Homo sapiens: one gene and its partners. The protein of the gene in region 1 purifies or fractionates together with the protein of each later gene. This does not show direct contact. Each region holds a gene or a part of one and is shown in the gene's direction. Other genes may lie near its edges.

Region 1 (3,453 bases):
TTTACTTGGACCCATCCTTCTGCCTGTAACAGGATTCTCTGTGGGACAGCCAGAGATGGCCCCCCAAAGTGAGCCCAGGGAAGGATCCCATAATGCCCAGGAGCAGATGTCCTCTTCTAGGGAAGAGAGAGCACTGGGGGTGTGCTCAGGTAGGTAACAGGAACCCTGGAAAGGCTCAGGGAGGAGTCCCCCTGCTTTCCTCCTGCCCTCCCTACCTCTCTCCCTTCTTCCCTCCCCCCTCCCTCCCTCCCTTCCTTCTTTCCTTCCTTCCTTCCATTCATCAAATATTTATTGAGCACCTATTATGTGTGGGATGCTATTCTAAACATTTGGAATACCTCAGTGACCAAATAGTCAAAGATCCCTACCTTCAAGAGCTTAATCCTAATGAGTGCAGAGAGTCAGCAAACAATAAATAAGGAAATTTCTAAACTATGTTCAAAGGTGATAAGAGCTCTGGGGGAGAGGATAATGTCCAGTGAAGCAGGTTGAAGGGGGCCGAGACAGCTGCAGGTGGGGGTGGGTGGGGCATGTTATAGGATTAAATAGGGTGAGGAGACTGGGTTTCTTTGGGAAGGTAAGATTTGTGCAGGATTTGAAGGAGCTTGGGGAAGCCGGGCATGGTGGCTTATGCCTGTATTCTCAGCCCTTTGGGAGGCCAAGGTGGAAGGATTGCTTGAGCCCCATTCGAGACCAGCCTAGGCAACATGGCAAGACCCTGTCTCCACAAAAAATTAAAAGTTAGCTGGATGTGGTGGCTCATGCCTGTGTTCCCAGCTACTTGGGAGGCTGGGGCAGGAGGATCCCTTGAAGCCCAGGCTGCAGTGAGGTATGATCGTGCCACTGCACTCCAGCCTGGGTGACAGAGAGGACCTTTCTCTAAAAAAAGAAAAATAAAAGAGGTGAAGGCGGCAGCTCAGCAGATTTGGGAAAAGTGCTTCAGGCAGGAGTACAGCCAGGACAGAGCACTAAGGCAGGAATGTGCCTGGCTTTTGACATCCTGATTCTCCCCAGTGATTTGCTTGGAACCAGGGTCCATCTGGGGGCTGGGAAGTCCCCAGCCCTTCTCCTAGGGGCATCAGGTCAGGGGACTTCCTTGCTTCCACTGTCTTACATACACATATTCCAGGAACTCTTCACAGTGGTGGCTCTTGTAACCTTGTAGTCCATCTCATTACATACCCTTAGCAGCCGCCCTGCTTGAAGGAGTCTGAGGCAGCCCCAGGGAAGCTGGGAACTCAGCCCCTTAATTCAGGTAGGATGTGGGAGGAACCCTGTGGGCCCTGCTGGAGCCAGGGTTTCAAATGCTCCTGCTTCCCAGCACCAGTGGGGCCCTTTGGCCATCTGTGATGTCTCCAGAGTCCTTGAGGTATCCTATTCTCTGCCAGGGCACGAGGCCCCTACACCGGAGGAAGGTGCCCACACAGAACAAGCCGAGGCTCCCTGCAGAGGCCAGGCGTGCTCAGCACAGAAGGCTCAGCCTGTGGGTACCTGCCCAGGTGAGTCTTCCCATCACTTCATCCCACCACGGGCTCAGGCCAAGGGAACGGGGCCCAGCAAGCTCCGGAGCTGCTATCTCATGAGGCAGGTAATCCCCCAAGACAGGCAGTCCAGGCCCTTCTAACCCAAGTTGAGTTCAGGCCCTGGCACCTTTCTGCTGTGGAGCTTCAATGCCGAAAGGGAATTTCACATCTGTAGATGGCAGGAGTCAGAGAGGCTGGTCACCAAAGAGAAACACAGCCTCCCCTCAAATGCCTTCTAGAAATCCTACCTCCCCCTCTTTATTTCTCCCAGTCTAAGTCTAATTACAGTTGCCATGAAGATACATGGCTTTGATCAACATTTTCACTGCCTCTCCCCTGACATGCCGCCTTCCCCAGCTTCCACTGATCGTGAGGGTACCCAGATGCTCCACATCTGCTGTATTCAACTCATCTCCTCATACCCAGGGTGATCAAACTGCTCACTCTCTCTCAACAATCCCACCATGACTTCCTTCCACTGCCACCATCCTTACTACCTTTTGCCTGAGGGATATCATTTATTCAGCAAGGATTTATTGAGTGCCGACTACATACAGGCTGTGTTAAGTACAGTGGAAAGAGATGAACTGTAGAGTTACCTGGACCTGGTTTGAATCTTTGTTCTGCATTTACTAGCTGAGTGCCCTTGGATAGGCCACCTTGCCTCCAGGAGCTTCGGTTTGTGAAGGTTTGTGACAGTGTGTGTACAACACTTCATCTACAGTTGGTCCTCGAGAAGTGGCAGCAGTCCCCATTTTTATCAGACACATAAAGACACCTTTCTTATTAGACACAAAAGAAATGGAACACAAAATGTCCATACCTCAGAAGAGAAAATCTGGTTGAGATGACCTTAATATGAGCTAGAACAAAGAATTAAAAGAACAGTATAAAGGCAAGTCACAAATAAGCACAAAAGTGTTAACAGTAAGTGCTATAGGAGTTTATGCCAAAAGATCCGCATGCACTGGGAATTTGTCAAAAAACATTAATTTGTGCTGCATTTTAAGAAAGGTGTAGACTTCAGTTCTGAAAGGGGTGGGGTGGAGGATGGGAAGACGTTCTAGGCTGAGAAGATCTTGAAGCAGGAAAGGGGAGGAGAGCAGCTTGGCTGAAGTGGAAGGTCCATGCCTGGGAGAAAGAAAGTTGGACTAGGGTGGGGTGAGCCTCAGATGCAGCTAGAACCTGTTTTATCTTCAAATAATAGGGTGCTGGGCTGGGCACTGTGGCTCATGCCTGTAATCCCAGCGACTCAGGAAGCTGGGGTGGGAGAACTGCTTGAGGCCAGGATTTCAAGACCAGCCTGGGCAACACAGCGAGACCCCATCTCTGAAAAAGTAAGAAATATTAGCTGGGCATGTTGGTGCACACCCATAGTCACAGCTGCTTGGGAGGCTGAGGTAAGAGGATCACTTGGGCCCAGGTGTTTGAGGCTGCAATGAGTCATTATCGTCCCATTGCACTCCAGCCTGGGAGACAGAGCAAGACCCTGACTCAATTAAAAATAAATAAATAGGAGCTATTGATGGTTCTTGAGTAGAAAAGTAAAGAGTGCCACAATGAAGGTGAAAGCAGTATCACAGTGTGATAAGTAGACAGGGGTCTGGAATCAATGGACTGATAGAAGAAACTGGGAGTACCTCTGATTGTGGAAGTCCACGTGTGATGGAATCAAGGCTCAGGCCAGACAGGAACCCAAATTATCTGCTTAAATGATTCACAAATGAGAATCACTTTGGGAGCTTTAAAGATGAGAACACGTTCGTGGGCCTTGCCCCCATTTGTGCATTTTCTCAACGTTTCCCAGGAGCTGATGATGCAGCACAGGCGTGGGAGCTTTAAACTAGTCCAACTCTTACACAAAGGGCAAATTTTCTTAGCGGACTAAGAAATGTAACTCAAAGAGGTTAAGTGACTGAACCAAAGTCAC
Region 2 (2,243 bases), on another chromosome or scaffold:
ATTCTCAGTGAGGAAACTGAGGCACAGAGCCTGAGTCACTCATTCTGTGTCCTCAGCTGATGAGTGATAGTCAAGTTCCAACCCTGGCTTCTCCCTCCTCCACCCTGCAGCTCTGCTGTCTCCCCTCACCACTCCCTACTCACTTGCCTGGCTCCTGCCCCACTGTCCTGCTGAAGTAGTCCTTAGGAGACCACAGAGGACCCCTCCCATCACATCTCACCATTTTCCACCCTTGGTCCAGCTGAGTCCTGCCCCCGCTGACCCGGCAAATCGTTCTCTGCCCTGAGTTTGCCTCTTGGCTTCTCCACTTACCAGCCATGTGGTCCTGGGGCAGGTTACCCTCCTTGAGTCTTTGTGTCCTTGTCTGTAAATGAGGATAATAACCGTACCCACCTTGTTGAGCGAGGATTGTAAGAGATTGTGTATGTGAATCATTTCCCACAGACCCCAGGAAGTCTTCCCTGTATACTTCTAATCTTCTCACTACATCCTGCCCTGATGTGCTCACCCCATAAACTCCTGGCCTTTAAATGTTATCTGTTCATTGTCCCCTTGTTTCAGATCTTCTTTTCCTGCAGAGGTTGGCTTGAATGTGTCTTCCTGTATGTTGCAATAGAAAACACCATTGTATGACTGTCACCCTGTCCTCTGGAGTGTGATTAGAAACAGGTATTATTGCTTTAGCTCGTTTATAATGGGTTTCTACAAGCTTTCACAGTCAGGTTAACAACACACTATTAGTCTTATTTCTAATTCTTGGGTTTTAAAGGCATTGTTACATTTATTTTGACCACAGTTTCAGTTCAGTTTATTCTCTGATTACAGCAAAGAAAATGCTCTAAATGTAGTAGCAGAACGTAACATATGTCTTTGTGAGAACTCCATGACACTATAGTATCCTAAGACATTGCCGTTTTGGTATTGAAGGAGTTGCCAGCAAGGAAGTGTGGATTTATTGGTAATTGTTTTATTGTTGTTGCTTTGGTTAAAATCCTGTCTTAAGAAACATTGTTTTACTCTTCAGTTTTCATAATCATTCTTCTTATGTATGATTGAACATCTACAAATTTCCTCCTCTGATCTTCCGATCAAATGGTAAAATTGCCATCTTTTCAGAACAGTTATCAGGATTCGACATCGGAAATTGATTTTCAACCTTTGGCATTTTCTGAGTGACTTAGGGTAGGGAGAGACCTCCCTCTAACACCCGGGTTTGTGTGGGCTGCAGAAAGCTGCTGGTCTAATCCTAGATGCAGACATTGACCAGGCTGTGCCCTGGGTTTGGGTTTTGTAGGGTCAGAAATATGTTTAAGAGTTTTTTCCGTTCATAAAGAGCTATCTGGCTGTCATCCCAGCCTTCACTGTGGAACCCTGGAGGGCTGCGTGGAACTTGCTGGACTCTGCTCCCGCAGGGCTGAGTCCTGAAGCCCTCAGGAGCCCATGAGGAGGCCAGTTGCTTTAAGCTGCTTAGGGGTTACTGGGAAGCTGCCGTGAGCTTTCACTGCTTCATGTTGTTGAGTGTGACGGTGGGTTTTTCCCTGTCCTTTGGCAAACCGCTGTATCATACACCTCATTTGCCATCAGAGCATGAGGGTGTATAGTTCTTTTTTTCCCCATGAAAACAACACAGAACAAAGCCTCACTTTTAAAAATGCCATGATATTTTGCCGCTGTTATGAAAATCTGTCAGCGCCGTATCTAATCTTCTGGTGCATCGAATATCAAAACAAGTACTATTGAAGGGATTGTACTTCTGTTAATACAAAAATGTCAGCTTCACAGTCTCAGAACCAGCTGCTATCAGCCTCTTTCCAAATGGGAAAGAAAAATAATAAAGTTTCTTTTCCCTCTCTGCTGTTACTGTTCTTCAGGCCTGACCTTCATAAGAAGACCCAGAGTAAACACAGCCTCGCTGAAATCCTACGTTCGGAATACTCAAGCGGCATGGAGGCCGACATCGCCAAGGTCAAAAAGCAAAACGCACCTGGAGAGCCTGGTGGCCGGCCCCTGCAGCACAGTCTGCAGCCGACACCCTGCTTTGGCCGTGGGAAAACATTAAAATGGAGAAAAACCCAAAAAGGTGTACAGCGGGACAGCAAGACTTCCCAGAAAGTTTAAAATCTCTCTGGGTCTTCGAGTGGAACCTGGAAGCCCCGGGTGGCAGTGGATTGATGTCCAGTTCTTGTCAGAGGAGGCTTGTGAAAAATAACTGCGCCTTTGCCTGAATACCACGTCCCCAAGAA
Region 3 (3,500 bases), on another chromosome or scaffold:
GATAACTTGAATGTTACTCCTCAACTTAACACTCATTGTAAATCATTTTTTCCAGTTTGATAAGTGAGAAATTGTATATCACTGTAGTTTTAATTTGCAGTTCTCATTTTGAATGAGGTTGAACATCTTTTCATATTTTTTTCCCCTTGATTGATTGATTGTGTCTCTTGCCCATTTGTCTACTGGGTAGTGATTTTATATAGGAAAGTCAGGGTAGGCTTTATTGAGAAATTGACCTTTTAGCAAAGACTTGAAGGATGTGAGGAAATTAGCCATCTTTGGGCAAAAAGAGCCCCAGAATGAGAGAACACCCAGTGCACAAGCTCCAAGGCAGGAGTGTATCGAATATGCTTTTTAAGAATAACAAGGAGGCCATTGTGACTGAAATCAAGCAAGGGAGAGAATTGTAGAAGAGGTCCTAGGAAAGTATGATGAAGAAGAAAGACCAGATCAGTGACTTTGTTGGCCGGTATGAGGACTTTGGTTTTATACTTAGTGAAATGAAGAGCCACTGGGTGGGTTAGAATAGAAGAATGACGTGGCCGGGCACAGTAGCTCACGCCTGTAATCCCAGCACTTTGGGAGGCCGAGACGGGTGGATCACGAAGTTAGGAGATTGAGACCATCCTGGCTAACGTGGTGAAACCCCATCTCTACTAAAAATACAAAAAAATTAGCCAGGTGTGGTGGCGGGCACCTGTAGTCCCAGCTACTCGGGAGGCTGAAGCAGGAGAATGGCGTGAACCCGGGAGGCGGAGCTTGCAGTGAGCCGAGATCGCGCCACTGCACTCCAGCATGGGCGACAGAGCGAGACTCCGTCTCAAAAAAAAAAAAAAAAAAAAAAGAATAGGAAAATGATGTGATCAGACTTAATTTTTAGAAGTAGTTGGCTGCTTTACTGAGAATGTAGCTGGAGAGGTAAGTAGAGAAAGGAAGCTACTAAACAAATCCAGGAAAGAAATGATGGGCTTTCATCATGACCTGGGCCAGGGTAGTTACAATGAAAGTGGTGAGAATTGATCTGATTCTAAATATTTTTTCCCCTGGGTATATTTTGAAATCAGAGCTGCTTCAATTTCCTGACAAATTGGATGCAGAATATGAGATAAATAGAGGATTCAGAGATGGTATTAAGGTTTTAGACTGAGCAAATTAGAAGGATGAAATGGTCATTGACTAGATGTGGAAGACTGAGTGAAGGAGATTTAAGGGGAAATCAAGAGTTCAGTTTTGCATATATTATGTTTGAGATGACTCAAGAGTTTTTAGAAGAGATGTCAAGCAGGTAGTTGGGATGTGAGCTTGGAATTCAGGAAAGAGGTCTTGAGATAAATTTGGGGGTAACAGGCATATCAAGGGTGTGTGTACATAAAGGTTTCCCTAGAATGTTTACCTACAGTAGGATAATTTTGAGTCATGGAATGTGTAAATGTTTAACTTTACATAATTGTACCAAAATATTTTTCAAAGTAGTGGTTGTATCATTTTATACTTTTGTGGTACAAGAGTAGTGTTCCTGCTCATCCACATTCTAACCAACTCATGGTATGTTCAGACTAATGATAAAAGGCTGTCTCATTGTGGTTTGAATTTGTATTTCCTTGTTTTCTAATGTTGAGCATCATTTAATATAAGTTGTTTTCTTTAGAGATAAGCCAGTTCATGTCTTTTGCCCAGTTTTCTATCATGTAGTATATTTTACGCATTTGTGGAACTTCTCTATATAATTTGGATACCAATTCTTCATACATATTAAAGAAATCTTCCAATTCATGAATTCTCTTTTTATTTTCTATGGTGTCTTTTGAGGACCAGGACCAGAAGTTCTTGATGTAGTTGAGTTTTTGAAAAATTAGCACTTAAAGCTTTTTATGTAATATTTAAGAAACTTTTCTCTTTCCTGTGATCATAAGTTCTTCTTTCCTTCTAAAATAATTAAAGAGTTGCCTCTCGTATTTATTTGCTTGATTGTCAGGAATTGTTTTCTGTTTGGTGTGAGAATGGAAACCAGTTACTTTCCTTCCTGTCTCCCCAACCTGTCCTTTTGCATATATATATTTTGAATTAGTTTTAATGTACTCTTACAATTCTGTGTTCTACTTCTTAACAGTTCATTTATATATAACCAGTTTATCCAGTACTGGTTATATATAACCAGTAGTTATATTTTTGGAGTAGTGCAGCCTTTCCCCACAATGAATTGTAATGCCATGATATATATCAAATATCTATATATGCTTGGTCTTTTTCTGGGCTATTTGCTTCGTCAGTTTGTCACTGCATCATTAGTTAATTATTTAGCTTCATAATAAGGCTTCATATCTATAAGGGCAAAATGCTTCTTTCACTCCTGCCCCTAAATCCCCTCTCTTCAGATGTGTTTTGGCTTTTCCTAGGCCTTTGCTCCTCCATATAAATTATAAATGGCACTAAATCAGATCAATTTGGGGATACGTATGTATGTATATAATATATATTTACTTAGGTCTCCTTTAAATAGTGAAATGTATTTCATGTATTTCGTAATTCTCTTCATGGAAGTTGACACATAAATCTTGCTAGAGCTATTCCTGGATATCTTACAGTTTTTGTTGGTGTAAACTGCATGTCTTTGAAAATTGTTTTGTTAGCCAATTTATAAAAATGCAATGGATTTTTGAATAGTGATGTTCTAACCAGTAGCCTACCTAAATTCATTTCTAATTTGTTGGGATATCGTTTTCATTTTTCTGTTTAGATAACCATTTCTGCAAATGACAGTTTTCTTATTTTGACCCATTTTTCTCCCATTTTTGTGCCTTCTAGAACTTCTAGCCTAATGTCAAATAAATAGAAAAATCAACAGTGCCATCTTTGCCACGTTCCTGATTTTCAAAAGAATACTTCCAATGAGTCAACATTAATATTTGTGTCACTAGAGATAGATTATTATGAGTTAAGGGTTAAGTAAATTTTACTTATTCTTATGATTTTGTTTTGTTTTGTTTGTCATGAATGAATGTAGAATGTTATTAGATGTTTTCTTTGCAAATATTGAGGTGATTATGTGGCTTTTCTCTTACTGCATTAAACATCATAACCAAATTGGATTTATTAATTCTTTGCTTAGAATTAATTATATCTGTGTTCATGAGTGAGACTACAGTAATGTCCACTTTTCGTTCCTAATATTATTTTATTTTGGCTTTTTCTCTTTTTTAAATCAGTTTTTACCAAGATATCTATTCTCTTAGTCTTTTCTGAGTACTTTCTTCTTTGATCCTGTTGAATCTTTGTTTTCTAATTCATTTATATCTCCTTTTATCTTTATTATTTTCTTCTGCTTCCTTTGAGTTTATTCTGTATTTATTGATTTGCTCAATATATATTTTTTCTAATATGAGCAGGTATAGCCATAAAACTCTTTCAGACTACCACTTTTGGTATATTCCACAAATTTTAAAAGGTACTACTTTCATTAATGTTTAAATCTGAGTGTCTCTCAATGGAAGATTTGTCTT
Region 4 (3,500 bases), on another chromosome or scaffold:
TTCTAAATTTACCAGAGACAAATTCCTATATTCTCTTCCTCTGATAATGTCTTTATTTCTCTCTTCATTTCTGAAGGGTAGTTTCATGGGATATAGAATTTGCAACCAACAGTTTTTTTGTTTGTTGGTTTGGTTTTTTTGTTTGTTTCTTTGGTTGGTTTTTTTTAAGCACTTGAAAATGTTGTGCCACTTCCTTCTGGCCTCCATGGCATTTGAGTTGGCATGTCCCTACAGGCATTCTGCCATTTTTGGTCTTTGTTTTTAGTTTTGAAAGTTTAATCAGTGTTGCTTTCTTTTGTTATACTTTGAGGTTTGCTCAGCTTCTTGAATCTGTAAGTTTATATCTTTCACTAAATGTGGGAAGCGTCAGGAATTAGTTATTTGCATGCTTTTGCAGCTCTGGTCTCCTGTGGGACTCAGATAACATAAATGCGGGGTCTTTTGTTATTGTCCCACAGGTCCGTGCAGCTCTGTTCATTTGTTTTCAGGTTATTTTCTCTCTATTGTTTAGACTGGGTGAATTCTGTTGATACAGGTTTCAGCTTCTCTGATTCTCTCCTCTGTCGTCTCCACTTTTACTCAATAGAGCCCATCTAGATAGATTTTTTTTTAATTTCTGTTACTGTATTTTATATTTCTGTAATTTCCATTTGATTCTTCTTCAGTTTCTTTGCTGACGTTTTCAGTTCTTTGTTTGTTGCCATAGGATTTGTAGTTGCTTGTTGAAGCATATTTATGCTGACTGTTATAAGTGATGAGTCAGATGGTTCCAACATCTGCCTATGTAATTTTTTTATTTTTGCAGGCAGTCCTCCTATTTGGGTTTAGTCTGTAGGTCCTGGTCTACTTTGTGGGCTGTGATTCCAATGGCAATTTAATTTCAGAGCCTTCATGGTGTTATTTTGGTCTGTTTGGCTTATATGTATCACTGGGATTCTCCCACCAGTCCCTGCTGTTGCCCACCTGAGGGAACAGGGGAGCTGCCCCAGGCTGGGCCACCTGCTGCAGCTAGGTGGGTGGGGAGTGGTGGTTGTCTTGGTGTGTGGAGCTGGTTTTCTTGTTATGGGGAAGATTTCCTTTGATCTGGGGGGACTGAGTCTGCCTGGGTTGCCTTCTATTGCTACGTTGGGAGTTGGGAAACTCTGGGCCTGGTCAACTTCCTATTGGATGAGGTCCAGGGAGACACCTGGCCACTATGCATTCCCTAGTCCTAGAGTCCCTCAGCAGCCTTTTTCTTTCCACCTTTCAGAATTCTCCTTTGATCATCTCCTGTCTATTATTTCTTAGGAGGGTATAATGTGTTATCTTCTCTAGACCAGAAATCCTTAATGGTGGTTTCAGGTTGTAACTGTGCTAAAGGGAGAATTGGCGTATTTTTGATGTTGAGTCTTTCTTTTCAAATGAGGACATATCATTATTCAGTAGATAATATTTACAACACCTACTTCCTTGGGTTGAAGAATGTGGTTAAGGCAAGGAAAGTACTTAACACAGTGCCTGGTGTGGAGAGCACCGATGAGTGTTGGTGGTGATGCTATTCCTTTTGTCCTTTGGTAGCATATTAAAGCTTTTCTTCTTTTTTAAAAAAATAAAGTTCTGGTGCATTTCTTGTTAGGTTTATTCCTATTTTATCCTTTTTTGCTTTTATTACAAATAGGAGCTTCCTATCTATTATAACTTCTACCTGGTTCTTTGGCCCTTATGTGAAAATGTTTTAATAGCCTTCTAAACATTGCTCTCCCAAATGAGTTTTAACTTGCCTATTTCTTTTATTTTCCTTTTTTTGAGACAGGGTCTCACTCTGTCACCCAGGCTGGAGTTCAGTGATGCAATTATGGCTCACTGCAACGTCTGCCTCCCGGGCCCCCAAAGTGCTGGGTTTACAGGCGTGAGCCACTGCACCCAGCCTTACTTGTCTGTTTCTTTTAAGAGTGGGAACTATAATTGAGCCCAGAGCTCCAAAAACAAATGAAGGAATGAATGAGTGAATAAGCTCTTCCCATGGGTTTGGTGTGGTTTGGGGCTCTACTCTTAATCTAAATGCTATGTTTTATATAACCTAAAATTTCCCCTAGGTGTGTTACACGATTGTGTTGTGTTGAACTTACATTGAGACTCCTTTTCACATGTGCTGGTATCAGCGTGGAGCTTTTCTATTCATTCCTTGAACTATTCGTTTGGGGGACACACATAGACCTCTGTGTCTTTCATAAAGAGTGTCCATTGGCCAGGTGCAGTGGCTCATGGCTGTAATCCCAGCACTTTGGGAGGCTGAGGAGGGCAGATCACGAGGTCAGGAGTTCGAGACCAGCCTGGCCAATTGGTGAAATCCCATCTTTACTAAAAATACAAAAATTAGCCAGGCTTGGTGGCGGGTGCCTATAATCCCAGCTACTCGGGAGACTGAGGCAGTAGAATTGCTTGAACCCGGGAGGCGGAGGTTGCAGTGAGCTGAGATCATGCCACTGCACTCCAGCTTGGGTGACAGAGTGAGACTCTGTCTCCAAAAATAAAAAACAAAAACAAAAGAGTGTCCATTGTGTATACTGGAAAAATTGAGATTGGGATTTTGATGTGAAGTGCGGAAATGTGGATTGGGTCCATTTAGTTTACCTAAACAGATGATGAAATACTAACTGTTTTACAAAGCATTCCCTAGTGCAAAGTTTTGCCTGTGTGTGTAGTGACAGGAACAGTGAGAATGAGGCTTGGAACGCAGAGCACACTGTGGGCCTGTGGTAGGTGGGGCCAGCAGCACATGCATACCTGGCTCACAGAGCAGCCTTTGGGTGTTCTTTTCCCAGAGGAGCTCTACGGTGACTTTGAAGACTTGGAAACAGGGGACGTGCACAAGGGAAAATCAGGCCCCAATACTCAGGTATGACTTTGTCGTAGCTGGCTGTTCTTGGTCATTGTGTTCTGAGAGAGGCCCACATTGAGAAATGCAAATCTTACTTGTGATGTGTGAAGATTGCAGACTGGATAGATAGATTCCTTCCTAAAGGGTGGGGATGTGGGGACCAAAGAGAAGCTTTCTTGTTTACTTGTTAAGTTTTGGATGACAGTTACTACCGTTTCTTGCCATAGTCATTTGCCAAGTCCACTGTGATTTTTCACTCACGGAAGTCTTAGCTTCTTGGACTTACATTCAACCATTGGCATCATTCTCCTTTTTTTAAATTTAAGTGTCATTTAAAAGAATGAAGTCCCTGTTCTCCCTAGTATTTCTTTAGAACAGGGTCTGGGAGCATCTGGGTGAGGGACACGTCTGTTATTTTTATTCTAGTTTGTGTTCCCAGCCAGCTTAAGGATTAGCAGCTAATTGTAATGCAGATGTAACCATTTCCTGTAGCAGTACCATGTTATTCAGAGACAAAGGTTGTGTTGTGTTTTCTTTTGTTTTATTGATAATGATAACAGATTTTTGCTAAGATTCTTGTTTAAATAGAACTTTAAAAAAGCTAATGTTTAAAGAAAAGACCTTCATAAACATACACAAA
Region 5 (3,500 bases), on another chromosome or scaffold:
GATTGTCTGCCTCGATTTCCCAAAGTGCTGGGATTACACGCTTGAGCCACCGTGCCTGGCCTACGCTCTTAAAAATTACTGATGACCTCAAAAAGCTTTTGTTGATGTGGATTATATATATTGATATTTACCATATTATAAATTAAAACTCAGACATTTAAAAAGTATTTATTCATTCAAAAAAAAATAAACTAATTATGTTAACATAATTACTGTATATTTAAATGAAAAATAATTACATTTTCCAAGTGAAAAAACAGAAGGATGGCATTGATTTACATTTTTGCAAATCTCATTAATGTCTGACTTAATAATAGGTAACTTGACTCTGTATTTGTCTGTTGTGATTTGTTCAGTTGAAGTATAGAAAGAAAATTTAGCCTCACACATAGGTAGTTAGAAAGAGAAGGCATATTATATTTCTTAATGTTACACAAAAACTCAACAAGTGCTGGTTTCTTAAAGGTGAGCTATGTGGAACCTGAAACCAGATCAAAGAACTTTCCTTACTGTTATATTAATTTTTTTAATACTTTGAGTGGATCTTTTACCCATGCATGATTTTATAACATCATGCATTGGTCATTTGTAAAATATTGGTTTGCTGAGTTGTTCAGACCTTCCAAATGTTGACATATTTCCACTATACAATATCAGAAAATCACTTTTGTTAACATCACTTCCGGTCTTATCACAAAACTCTTTAAATAATGGGAAGTTAAAGAGTTCACAGTTTTTCAGAATTCTAATTTACACTTGAAAGTTTAAATGTTATCACTGGCATTTCCATTGCTTGAGCTATTTCCATTTAATAGCTTAATTTCTCTGCTGAGATTTCCCATCTGTTCATTATGAGATATTTTCCTCTTCTTGAAAATATTTGTGATATGTAATTGGTGCTTTGAAGTCCTTCCTGTCTGTTAATTGCAACATTGGATTCACCACAGGATTGGTTTCTATATTGGCAGCTTTTTCTTCAGTGTGTATTACATTTTCCTGTTTATTTACCTGTCTGGTCACTTTTTTAAATTGTTACTGGACATCATGAATGATATACTGTAGAGACTTTGAGTTCTGTTACACTGTATTGTCAGTTGTTTTCCTTCAGGTAAAGCTCACTTTGTACAATAGCTTTTTATAGATTCCATCAGATTTTGTACCTAGAGGGTCTTCCATCTTTGCATACAGTTTAATTTCTTACTTTACAATCTAGATGCTTTTTGTTTCTTTTCCTTGCCCTGTTGCATTAGCTAGCACTTCAGTGCAGATGTTGAATAGAAGTAGTGAGAGCAGACATCTTTGCTTTGTTCCTAATCTCAGGAAGAAAACATTTAGTTTTTACAACACATTTATTAAATGTGTTGTAGCTGTATAGGTTTTTTGTAGATATCCTTTATGGAGTTAAAGTTCCCTTCTATTCCTGTTTTGCTGAGAGTTTTGTTTTCAGGAATGTATGTTGGATTTTGTTCAAAATATTTTCTAATTATCCTTTTGGTTTATTCTTTGCTCCATGGGTTATTTAGGAGTGCATTAATTCCAAATATTTGGACTTTTCTAGATATCTTACTGCTATTTACTTATAATTTAATTCCATTTTGGTCAGATAATATACTGTAATATTTTGATCTTTTGAAATTTGTTGGCCAGGCACAGTGGCTCATGCCTGTAATCCCAACATTTTGGGAGCCCAAGGCAGACGGATTGCTTGAGCCTAGGAGTTTGAGACCAGCCTGGGCAACATGGCAAAACCCTGTCTCTACAAAAAAATACAAAAATTAGTCGGGCATGGTGGCACACGCCTATAGTCCCAGCTACTGTGGAGGCTGAGGTGGGAGGATCACTGAGCCCAGGGAGGTCGAGGCTGCAATGTGCTGTGATTGCACCACTGCACTCCAGCCTGGATGACAGAGTGAGACCATGTATCAAAAAACAATAATAAAAATGAAATTTGTTAAGGTGTGTTTTATGGCCCAGTGGATAGTCTATCTTCTGAATGTTTCCTTTGCACTTGAAGAGAACGTATATTCTGTAGCTATATAAGGTAGTGTTTTATAAAAGTCAGTGAGGTCAAGGTGTTTAGATCTTAGATCGCCTGTATTCTGGGTTTTTTGTGTTTGTATTTTTCTATCAGTTACTATCAATTGTGGATTTTTTGTTTTAGCTGGTTTATTTTGTTTTTCAACTCTAAAATTTCCATTTAATAGCTTACATTTCTCTGCTGAGATTTCCCATCTGTTCATTATGAGACATTTTCCTCTTCTTGAAAATATTTATGATATGTAATTAGTGCTTTGAAGTCCTGTCTGCTAATTGCAACATTGGATTCACCACAGGATTGGTTTCTATTGACAGCTTTTTCTTCAGTGTGTATTACATTTTCCTGTTTATTTACCTGTCTGGTCACTTTTTAAAATTGTTACTACGCATCATGAATGATACACTGTAGAGACTTTGAGTTCTGTTACACTGTATTCCTCTTAAGTGTGTTAGTTTTTATTCTAGCAGGTAGTTAACATAGCTGAACTCCAAACTGTCTCCTTTGCAGTGGACGGCAGCTACAATCTTTGCTCAGTTCTTTTAGTTTCTAGCTGCCATTTTTTTAATTGGCCTGATGGTATTTTCTCTGCACATGTGTCATTTAACAGTTAGCCAAGGATTTGACTAGGGTTTGTATGTAGATTTTGAGGTTCATCTCTTTTGTAGTTCCTTCTCTTCCAAGATTTCCCCCCTAATTTCCTAGCTGTTCTGCCCACTTTGCACTAATTCCTCAAGCCAGTAAGCCTGTGGCTTTCTGCCTTCATGAGCCATGCTGTTTGGGAAGTTGCCCTCCAGCAAATCTCTTTTCACATATAGACTTCATCCAGTTCATACTTACTTTTGGTCACTCTTCCACACCTTCAAATACCTATTTTTTTTGTTTTGTCTAGGTTTTATAGTTGCTAACTGAGGATAGGTTAGTCTGTTCGGGTTACTCTGCAATGTCTAGAATCTGTCTCCCCACCTTATATGGGCCTAAGGCGTTGTCTTCTGTCCCTCGGGGTGCCGTCAAAATCCAACAGCCAGGTGTGGTGGCGTGTGTCTGTAGTACCAGCTATTTGGGAGGCTGAGGCAGGAAGATCGCTTGAACCCAGGAGTTTAAGTCCAGGCTAGGCAACATAGTGAGACCCCAACTCCAGAATAAAAAAATTTAAGGCTCTTCTTTCTGATATTGGCAGATATCTATAAGTTGACTGTAGTTCCTCATCTTGGCAGATATCTTTAGGGTAGCTGTGGTTACAGGCTAGCTTACTAGTTCCGTTTGCAGTTCACTGTATGTAGGCTTTTTGGTAGAAGGAGGATTTTTCAGAACACTCATTTGCCATACATACAGCCAGAAGTAGATCTTTTTATAGCACAACCCTACAGATGTTCCCTGCTACCGAGTTTTTGTTTTTTGTTTTTTAATTTTTGGACCCAAAACTTAGAATTCTCCCTGACCTAGTTTTTTTTTACTAGTATTT
Region 6 (3,500 bases), on another chromosome or scaffold:
TCTCAGCTCCCCTGACGCCCCTGGTACTCTTGCTCCTTCAGCAACGCCTCACTCCAAAGCTGTTCCATGAAGTGGTACAGGCGTTCCGAGCAGCTGTGGCCACCACCCGAGGGGACCAGGAAAGTGCTGAGGCCAACAAATTCCAGGTCACGGACAGTGCTGGTGAGCTTGGGGGGAGCCTGGCATCCAGGCTGTCTGTTGCGTTCTCTGTCCCGTGAGTACATCCAGGCCTTTTCGTTGCAGCATTCAATGCTCTGGTTACCTTCTGCATCAGAGACCTCATTGGCTGTCTCCAGAAGCTGCTGTTTGGAAAGGTGGCAAAGGATAGCAGCAGGTAAGAGGGGAGGGGGTGAAGGGGGGTAGGGTGGAAGGTGGGTCGGGACCACACACAGGAGAAGCCAGAGGCCTTGTGGCTAGGACAGAGACATGGCAACAGAGCCAGCGTCTTCTTGGGGACCCTGAGAAGGCAGCGGGGCACGAGGGACCGTTGGGAGAGGCTGGGCACTTGGGGCCAGTTGGAGCGGCCCCACCTTCTTTCCTTCCTGAAAAGGGAAGTTGTCTGCTCAGAGTCTCAGAAGGTGTGGCGTGTGCAGCTGCCTTTGCTCTCAGATTTTCCCAGGTTAGGGTTCTTGCTCTATTTCCCTTTGTAAGAACTTGTAAGTCCTGTCCATACTCCTTGATCTCTGCACTATGACTGGCCTGTTTCCTGGAGCTGTGTGTGTCTGTAGACAGGGGCCTCATCAATGCTGAGAACCTGAGGGCCTCAACTTCCCCTTTAGAGAAAGATTGGGCAGAGAAGGCCGTGGAAGGTTTTCAGAGAAGAGAGACGCACGGCCAAGCATTTGGTAGAGCATGGAGCACGTTGGGGTTCCGGGGCTGTGCAGCCATGTGACCTTGAGGCAGTGGAGGCCTAGAGTTGGAACTGCCCCAGGACACCTTCAAAGGAAGAAAGGAGACCCACAGGAGAGGTCTCGCCGACAGCGGCTCAGGAGACAGGGGCACTGTTGCTGGTGGTAGTGGTCGGGGCTGGACGGATAGAACAGAGCCATGTCCACATGGAGGCAGTGCTGTCCGAAGGGGACAAGGAAGCTGGCAGATGGGGGTGGAGGGACAGGCAGCGATTGGGAGGCAGCACGCACTGCAGCCTGAGCCACCAGGTCAGGGACCCCTGTCGAGGCAGCAGCTGTACCGGAGGGAGTCAGGCCGTGGGGAGCAGAGCTGCCTCCTGGGTCTGGGTGGGCAGCTGCAGGTGCCCAGCAGCCAGTGTCAGCACAGGTGTGAGGAGGGTCGAGGACGGGGGGCCTTTCTGGGGCCCTGCCCTTTGTCCTTCCCATGCTTCAGCAGATTTTAGTGAGCGCCTACTGCGTGGGCTCTGGTAAATGTTTTGTTTTGTTTTGTTTTGTTTGTTTGGTTTTTGGTTTTTTTTTTTCCTTACGAGATAGGATCTTGCTCTGTCGCCCAGGCTGGAATGCAGTGATCATAGCTCACTGCGACACGTACCTTCTGGATTCAAGTGATTCTCTCACCTTAGCCTCCCAAGTAACTGGGACTCCGCCACCAGGCCTGGATAATATTTTGTATATTTTTGTAGAGACGGGGTCTCACTGTGTTGTTCAGGCTGGTCTCAAACTCCTGGGCTTGGAGTTTGATCCTCCTGCCTTGGCCTCCCAAAGTGCAGTGAGTACTGGCATGAGTCTCCACACCTGCCCTCTGATTTTCTTTTCTTTGTGCAGCAAATGTGGGCCAAAGGAAACCAGTCTGCGGCAGTTGGTGGTGCCTGGGCGACCCCAGAGGTGCTGAGTACCAGCTGCTGGGCTTAGGGACCTCGTGTGGTCTCACGGTGGGGATGTGATCAAGGGGACCTAGAAAAGGTTTATGTCTGAGAGGGAGTTGGAGGCTGGGACTTCCGGGGACTCTTAGGGCGGTGGCCAACCCTGGGCAGGGCAGACAGGAGTTCAAGGCCACTGAAGGAGGAGCTAATGCACTTGAGAGGGTCCTCCTAAGCCCCTGTGTCTGTCCAGCTGTAAGGGGCCCTGAGCTTTTTTGAGTGGAGAGACGGGGGGTCTCTGCAGAGTCGTAGAGGCTATGCTGGCCAGGGCACGCGCCAACATGCTGAGCAGCCTCGCGTCCGAGCCGTGGGGCCTCCCAGCCAGGGGTGGGTGGTCTCTCTGCAGGATGCTGCAGCCGTCCAGCAGCCCGCTCTGGGGGAAGCTTCGTGTGGACATCAAGGCTTACCTGGGCTCGGCCATACAGGTGCTATTCTGGTGGGGAGGGCACGGGGGCCTGGCTGTATCTGGTGGTCGGTCCTTTTTTGTATCCCAGAATACATGGGTTTGGGGCTTCACTGTCCCCTCCTGCCCCCAGCTGGTGTCCTGTCTGTCGGAGACGACGGTGTTGGCGGCCGTGCTGCGGCACATCAGCGTGCTGGTGCCCTGCTTCCTGACCTTCCCCAAGCAGTGCCGCATGCTGCTCAAGGTTCGTGGCCCAGTCCCCTCCCTGTGTCTGTCATGGGGTCGGGGGGCCACACGGCTACCCCCACCACATCCCACTCCTGGCCAGGGCACAGGTGGTGCCCACACTCCACTGGCTCCGCTTGGCTAGAGAGGCCACAGAAGCACCTGGCCCCCACCCCCACCTGGGGTTTCTGTCTCAGGCAGTCCCTGCCTGCCCGGGCAGCGCGGCTCAGTCCGTGAGCAAAGCCACGGTGAGGTATCTTCTTCCCGGTGTGATCTCACATACGTCGGCGTGTCTGACGTGGTAAACTTTTGTGGTCCTCTTCTCACAAGGAGCAACACACCTGTTCTGTTCACTTCTGTAACTGAGCACCTAACTCACGGCTCCCCCGAGGTGCTTTGGGAAGAGCTGGTGGCCATGGGAGCCTTTGCCTGGCTGGGGAGGGCTGTGCTGGCCCTGGGGCATCCCTGCTGAGGAGGCTGGGGGGCCACCAGTGACGTCTGACCTTCTGCAGAGAATGGTGATCGTATGGAGCACTGGGGAAGAGTCTCTGCGGGTGCTGGCTTTCCTGGTCCTCAGCAGAGTCTGCCGGCACAAGAAGGACACTTTCCTTGGCCCCGTCCTCAAGGTAGTGGTGGGCCCTGCGTCTGTGTCCCTCAGCATCTGCATTGGAAATCTCGGCCTAAGGGCAGGGCGGGCTGCCTTTGTGGTTGGTGCCCCTCACTGGACCCTCACTGCAGCTCTGAGCAGACCTGGGCCCTTGGATCACGAATGTCTCACAGAGCACCTGGGGGTGGTGGGCAGGGAAGAGAGCCCTCGGCCTTCTCAGGGCCCCACCTGGACCCTGCTTCACACAGCTTCCCCAGGGGAGGGCCTCTCTGGCTGGAGGAGGACACTGGGTGTTGGGACCTGAGGCCATGGCCAGGGTACAGTCCTACTGCCCGTCCCCAAGCCATGGGTGGCCTGCATGTGGGGACCCTCAGCCCCCAGAGGGGCCCAGTGTGCAGCAGGAGCTTCTGCCCCAGCTTCTCCCAGGCCTGAGGCTG
Region 7 (3,500 bases), on another chromosome or scaffold:
TGAGGTTTAATTTAACTGTTTCTTCTTTTGTTGCTTGTGGTTTTGGTATCACATCTAAGAAGCTGTTGCCTACTGCAAGGTCGCAAAGATTTTCACTTCTTCTGAGAGTTTTAAAGTTTTAGCTCTTATATTTTGGCCTTTGAGTTAATTTTTATGAAGTAGGTAGGGGCCCAACTTTATTATTTTGTATGTGGATATCCAGTTGTAGCATTTATTGAAAAGTCTATTATTTTCCCACTGAATTGTCTTGGCACCCTTACTGAAAATTAGTTAGCAGCCGGGAGCAGTGGCCATGCCTGTAATCCTAGCACTTTGGGAGGCCAAGACAGGTAGATCGCATGAGCCCTCAGGAGTTCGAAACCAACCTGGGCAACATGGTGAAACTGCATCTCTACAAAAAATACAAAAATTAGCTGAGTGTGGTAGCGTGTGCCTGTAGTCCTGGCTACTTGAGTGGCTGAGGTGAGAGGTTCACTTGAGCCCAGGAGGTAGAGTGAGGCTTCAGTAAGCTGAAATCATGCCACTGCAGTCCAGCCTGGGAGACAAAGTAAGGCCCTGTCTTACACACACACAAAAGAAAATTAGTTACCTATAAATGTAGAGGTTTACTTCTGGACTCTAAATCTTCCATTGATCTACATGTGTCTCTCTTTCTGCCCATATCACACAGTCTTGATTACTACAGCTTTGTAGTACTTTTTTTTTTTTTTTTTTTGAGACTGAGTCTTGCTGTGTTGCCCATGCTGGAGTATAGTGGCAGGATCTCAGCTCACTGCAATCTGTGTCTTCCAGGTTCAAGCGATTCCTGTGCCTCAGCCTCCTGAGTAGCTGGGACTACAGGCGTGTGCCACCACGCCCAGCTAATTTTTTCGTACTTTTAGTAGAGACGGGGTTTCACCTTGTTGGTCAGGCTGGTCTCGAACTCCTGACCTCAGGTGATCCACCCACATCGGCCTCCCAAAGTGCTGGGATTATAGGTGTGAGCCACCATGCCTGGCCATAGTCATAGAGTACATTATCCAACTTTGTCCTTTTTAAAGATTCTTTGTTCTTCTTTGGTCCCTTGCATTTTCGTATGAATTATAGAATCAGCCTGTCAACTTATGCAAAAAGGCCGAGTTTTTGATAGGAATTACATGTATCTGTAGATCAATTTGACAATAGTAAGTCTTTCAACTGAACACAGAGTGTCTTTTCATTCATTTAGGTCTTAAAAAATTTTTTTTCAACAGTATCACTTTTCAGAGTAAAATTTTGCATCTCTTTTGTAAAATTTCTACCCATTTTGTTACTTTTGATGCTTTTGCAAATGGCATTGTTTTCCTAATTTTATCTTCTGCTTGTTCATTGCAAGTGTATAGACATACAGTTGATTATTGTGTATTGATCTTGTACTCTGCAACCTTTGTGAACTCATTTATTAGTTCAGTAAATTTTTAGTGGGTTCTTAGGATTTTTCTGTGTACAAGACCATGTCATCTGCAAATAGAGATAGTTTTACTTCTTCCTTTCCAATCTTGGATATCTTTTTGTTATGTTCTTGCTTAATTGTCCTGGCTGGAACCACCAATATAATGAACAAAAGTAGTGAGAAAAGACATTTTTGTCTTATTACTGATTTTAGGGGGAAAGCATGCAGTCTTTTATCATTCAGTTCAATGTTAGCTATGAGTTTTTCATAGATGCCCTTTATCAGATTGAGGAAGTTCCTTCTGTTCCTACATTGTTGAGTCTTTTTATCATGAAGGGTTATTGTGTTTTTTCAGATGCTTTTTCTGTGTCTATTGTGATGATCATGAGGTTTTGGTCCTGTATTCTTTTGATTTGGTTTAGATCAATAGATCTCTATTTTATTATTTGCATTAATTGATTTTCAGATGTTAAGCCAACCTTGCATTCCTAGTATAGATCCGACTTGGACATGATGTATAATGCTTTTTATATGTTGTTGGACTCAGTTTGCTAGTATTTTTGTTAAAGATTTTTGCAGCTATATTCTTAAGAGATACTGATCTGTAGTTTTATTGTGTTGTCTTTGGTTTTGGTATCATGGTAATACTGGCTTAGAATAAGTTAGGAAGTATTCTTTTCTGTCCTTTTTTTGGGAGAATTTGTGAAGAATTAGTATTTTCCTTTAAATATTTGTTGGAATTTACTGTTGTAGCTATCAGCAACTGAGTTTTTCTCGCAGATAGTTTTTTAAATTACTAATTTAACAGAGGTCCTCAATGTTTAATGAATGTTAAAAGATCTTGTATCTTTGGGCAGATAAGGATGATTATGCTTACAATGCAGTAGCCCAGGATGTGTTCAACCACAGCTGGAAGACATCTGCAAATATTTCTGCATTGATTAAAATTCCTGGAGTTTGGGACCCTTTTGTGAAGAGTTATGTAGAAGTAAGTAGAATTTTCATTAAATTTATTGGTTTTATTTTGTCAAAAGCCTATACAAAGACTGCATGCCTAATCTTTATTGATCAGAAAGAAACTAATGGAAAAAATTATTTAAAAGAAAGCAAAAATACGGTGTCTCTTTTTTGGTCTGAATTTGTTTATTTTCACCACTGTATAACCCGTCGTGGCCAAGTATCTATAAAATAAATAGCAGTATAGTTGTAAATGTTAATTCAATCTTATTCTTGTTGAGCTTAAAAGAAATGCAGTAAGATACCTTATGATTTGGTGGGATATAGAAGGAAAGAGGACAAAAATCTGAAAAAATGGGTCATACTATATGAGGTGAAGAATGATGGCTTTTTGGAAGTTCATAAGAATGTCCTGTCATCCCAGAGTCATTGTAAAAGGACTGAGGGCCTTGGTGCTAGGCACTAGGAATAAATCTTCAAAATAATTTGCTTTGTGAAAGTTAATGAGTGGCAAGTTGATAATTGTGTTGTCAGAAGATAATCTCCAAAATCATAATCTGGAGATTCCTGTGTAAGGATGGGAACAGGATGAAAGGAATTACAATTCTCATGCACTCCTTTTGTGGCTGCAGTGATGTAGGGCACTGAGGTTAGCTGCATCACATTTTCGAGCATTAGTGTTCCCTGCTTTGAGGACTCTTATTTTTTATAGGAAGAGAATTTATGTTGAGGTTGCTGCATTGTTTATTAGTAGTAACAAAATACAGGGAAAAAATGGGAACCCTGTCAGTTTTGTGATTTTTAAAAAATACCCATCAGTAAACTTATGCTGTGTATTATTTTTCGTATAGCTGTCTTACAGAATTCAGCTAAGATATTATGATTTATTTTATATAGATGCTGGAATTCTATGGGGATCGAGATGGAGCCCAAGAGGTACTCACCAATTATGCATATGATGAAAAGTTTCCATCAAATCCAAATGCCCATATCTACTTATACAACTTTCTAAAGAGACAGAAGGCACCAAGATCAAAATTGATAAGTGTGCTTAAGGTATAGAATTTTTATCTCGATGTTTGACCAGGGTTGGGAATCTACATTAAAACATTCTTAGGCCATTGCTTTCTAA

Evidence for each region.
Region 2: the proteins of ZNF467 (region 1) and DDX31 purify together in Homo sapiens (affinity purification with mass spectrometry; one large-scale study listed by BioGRID and IntAct). This does not show direct contact.
Region 3: the proteins of ZNF467 (region 1) and RPF1 purify together in Homo sapiens (affinity purification with mass spectrometry; one large-scale study listed by BioGRID and IntAct). This does not show direct contact.
Region 4: the proteins of ZNF467 (region 1) and BMS1 purify together in Homo sapiens (affinity purification with mass spectrometry; one large-scale study listed by BioGRID and IntAct). This does not show direct contact.
Region 5: the proteins of ZNF467 (region 1) and BUD13 purify together in Homo sapiens (affinity purification with mass spectrometry; one large-scale study listed by BioGRID and IntAct). This does not show direct contact.
Region 6: the proteins of ZNF467 (region 1) and NOC2L purify together in Homo sapiens (affinity purification with mass spectrometry; one large-scale study listed by BioGRID and IntAct). This does not show direct contact.
Region 7: the proteins of ZNF467 (region 1) and TAF1A purify together in Homo sapiens (affinity purification with mass spectrometry; one large-scale study listed by BioGRID and IntAct). This does not show direct contact.

The regions. Positions count from the first base shown.
Region 1 is NC_000007.14:149,767,136-149,770,588, reverse strand, and holds part of ZNF467 (zinc finger protein 467), read left to right. Parts: intron 1-32; coding exon 33-149; intron 150-1,388; coding exon 1,389-1,499; intron 1,500-3,453. UniProt on the Homo sapiens protein: Transcription factor that promotes adipocyte differentiation and suppresses osteoblast differentiation in the bone marrow. Enhances the osteoclast-supporting ability of stromal cells.
Region 2 is NC_000009.12:132,594,741-132,596,983, reverse strand, and holds part of DDX31 (ATP-dependent DNA helicase DDX31), read left to right. Parts: intron 1-561; coding exon of another isoform or gene 562-616; exon of another isoform or gene 617-1,841; intron 1,842-1,871; coding exon 1,872-2,118; 3' UTR 2,119-2,243. UniProt on the Homo sapiens protein: May have DNA helicase activity and RNA helicase activity. Probably have ssDNA and RNA dependent ATPase activity. Plays a role in ribosome biogenesis and TP53/p53 regulation through its interaction with NPM1.
Region 3 is NC_000001.11:84,485,766-84,489,265, forward strand, and holds part of RPF1 (ribosome production factor 1), read left to right. Parts: intron 1-3,500.
Region 4 is NC_000010.11:42,813,795-42,817,294, forward strand, and holds part of BMS1 (ribosome biogenesis protein BMS1 homolog), read left to right. Parts: intron 1-2,804; coding exon 2,805-2,878; intron 2,879-3,500. UniProt on the Homo sapiens protein: GTPase required for the synthesis of 40S ribosomal subunits and for processing of pre-ribosomal RNA (pre-rRNA) at sites A0, A1, and A2.
Region 5 is NC_000011.10:116,752,488-116,755,987, reverse strand, and holds part of BUD13 (BUD13 homolog), read left to right. Parts: intron 1-3,500. UniProt on the Homo sapiens protein: Involved in pre-mRNA splicing as component of the activated spliceosome. As a component of the minor spliceosome, involved in the splicing of U12-type introns in pre-mRNAs.
Region 6 is NC_000001.11:952,757-956,256, reverse strand, and holds part of NOC2L (nucleolar complex protein 2 homolog), read left to right. Parts: intron 1-41; coding exon 42-162; intron 163-243; coding exon 244-334; intron 335-2,174; coding exon 2,175-2,253; intron 2,254-2,364; coding exon 2,365-2,475; intron 2,476-2,968; coding exon 2,969-3,082; intron 3,083-3,500.
Region 7 is NC_000001.11:222,569,434-222,572,933, reverse strand, and holds part of TAF1A (TATA box-binding protein-associated factor RNA polymerase I subunit A), read left to right. Parts: intron 1-2,268; coding exon 2,269-2,399; intron 2,400-3,265; coding exon 3,266-3,424; intron 3,425-3,500. UniProt on the Homo sapiens protein: Component of the transcription factor SL1/TIF-IB complex, which is involved in the assembly of the PIC (pre-initiation complex) during RNA polymerase I-dependent transcription.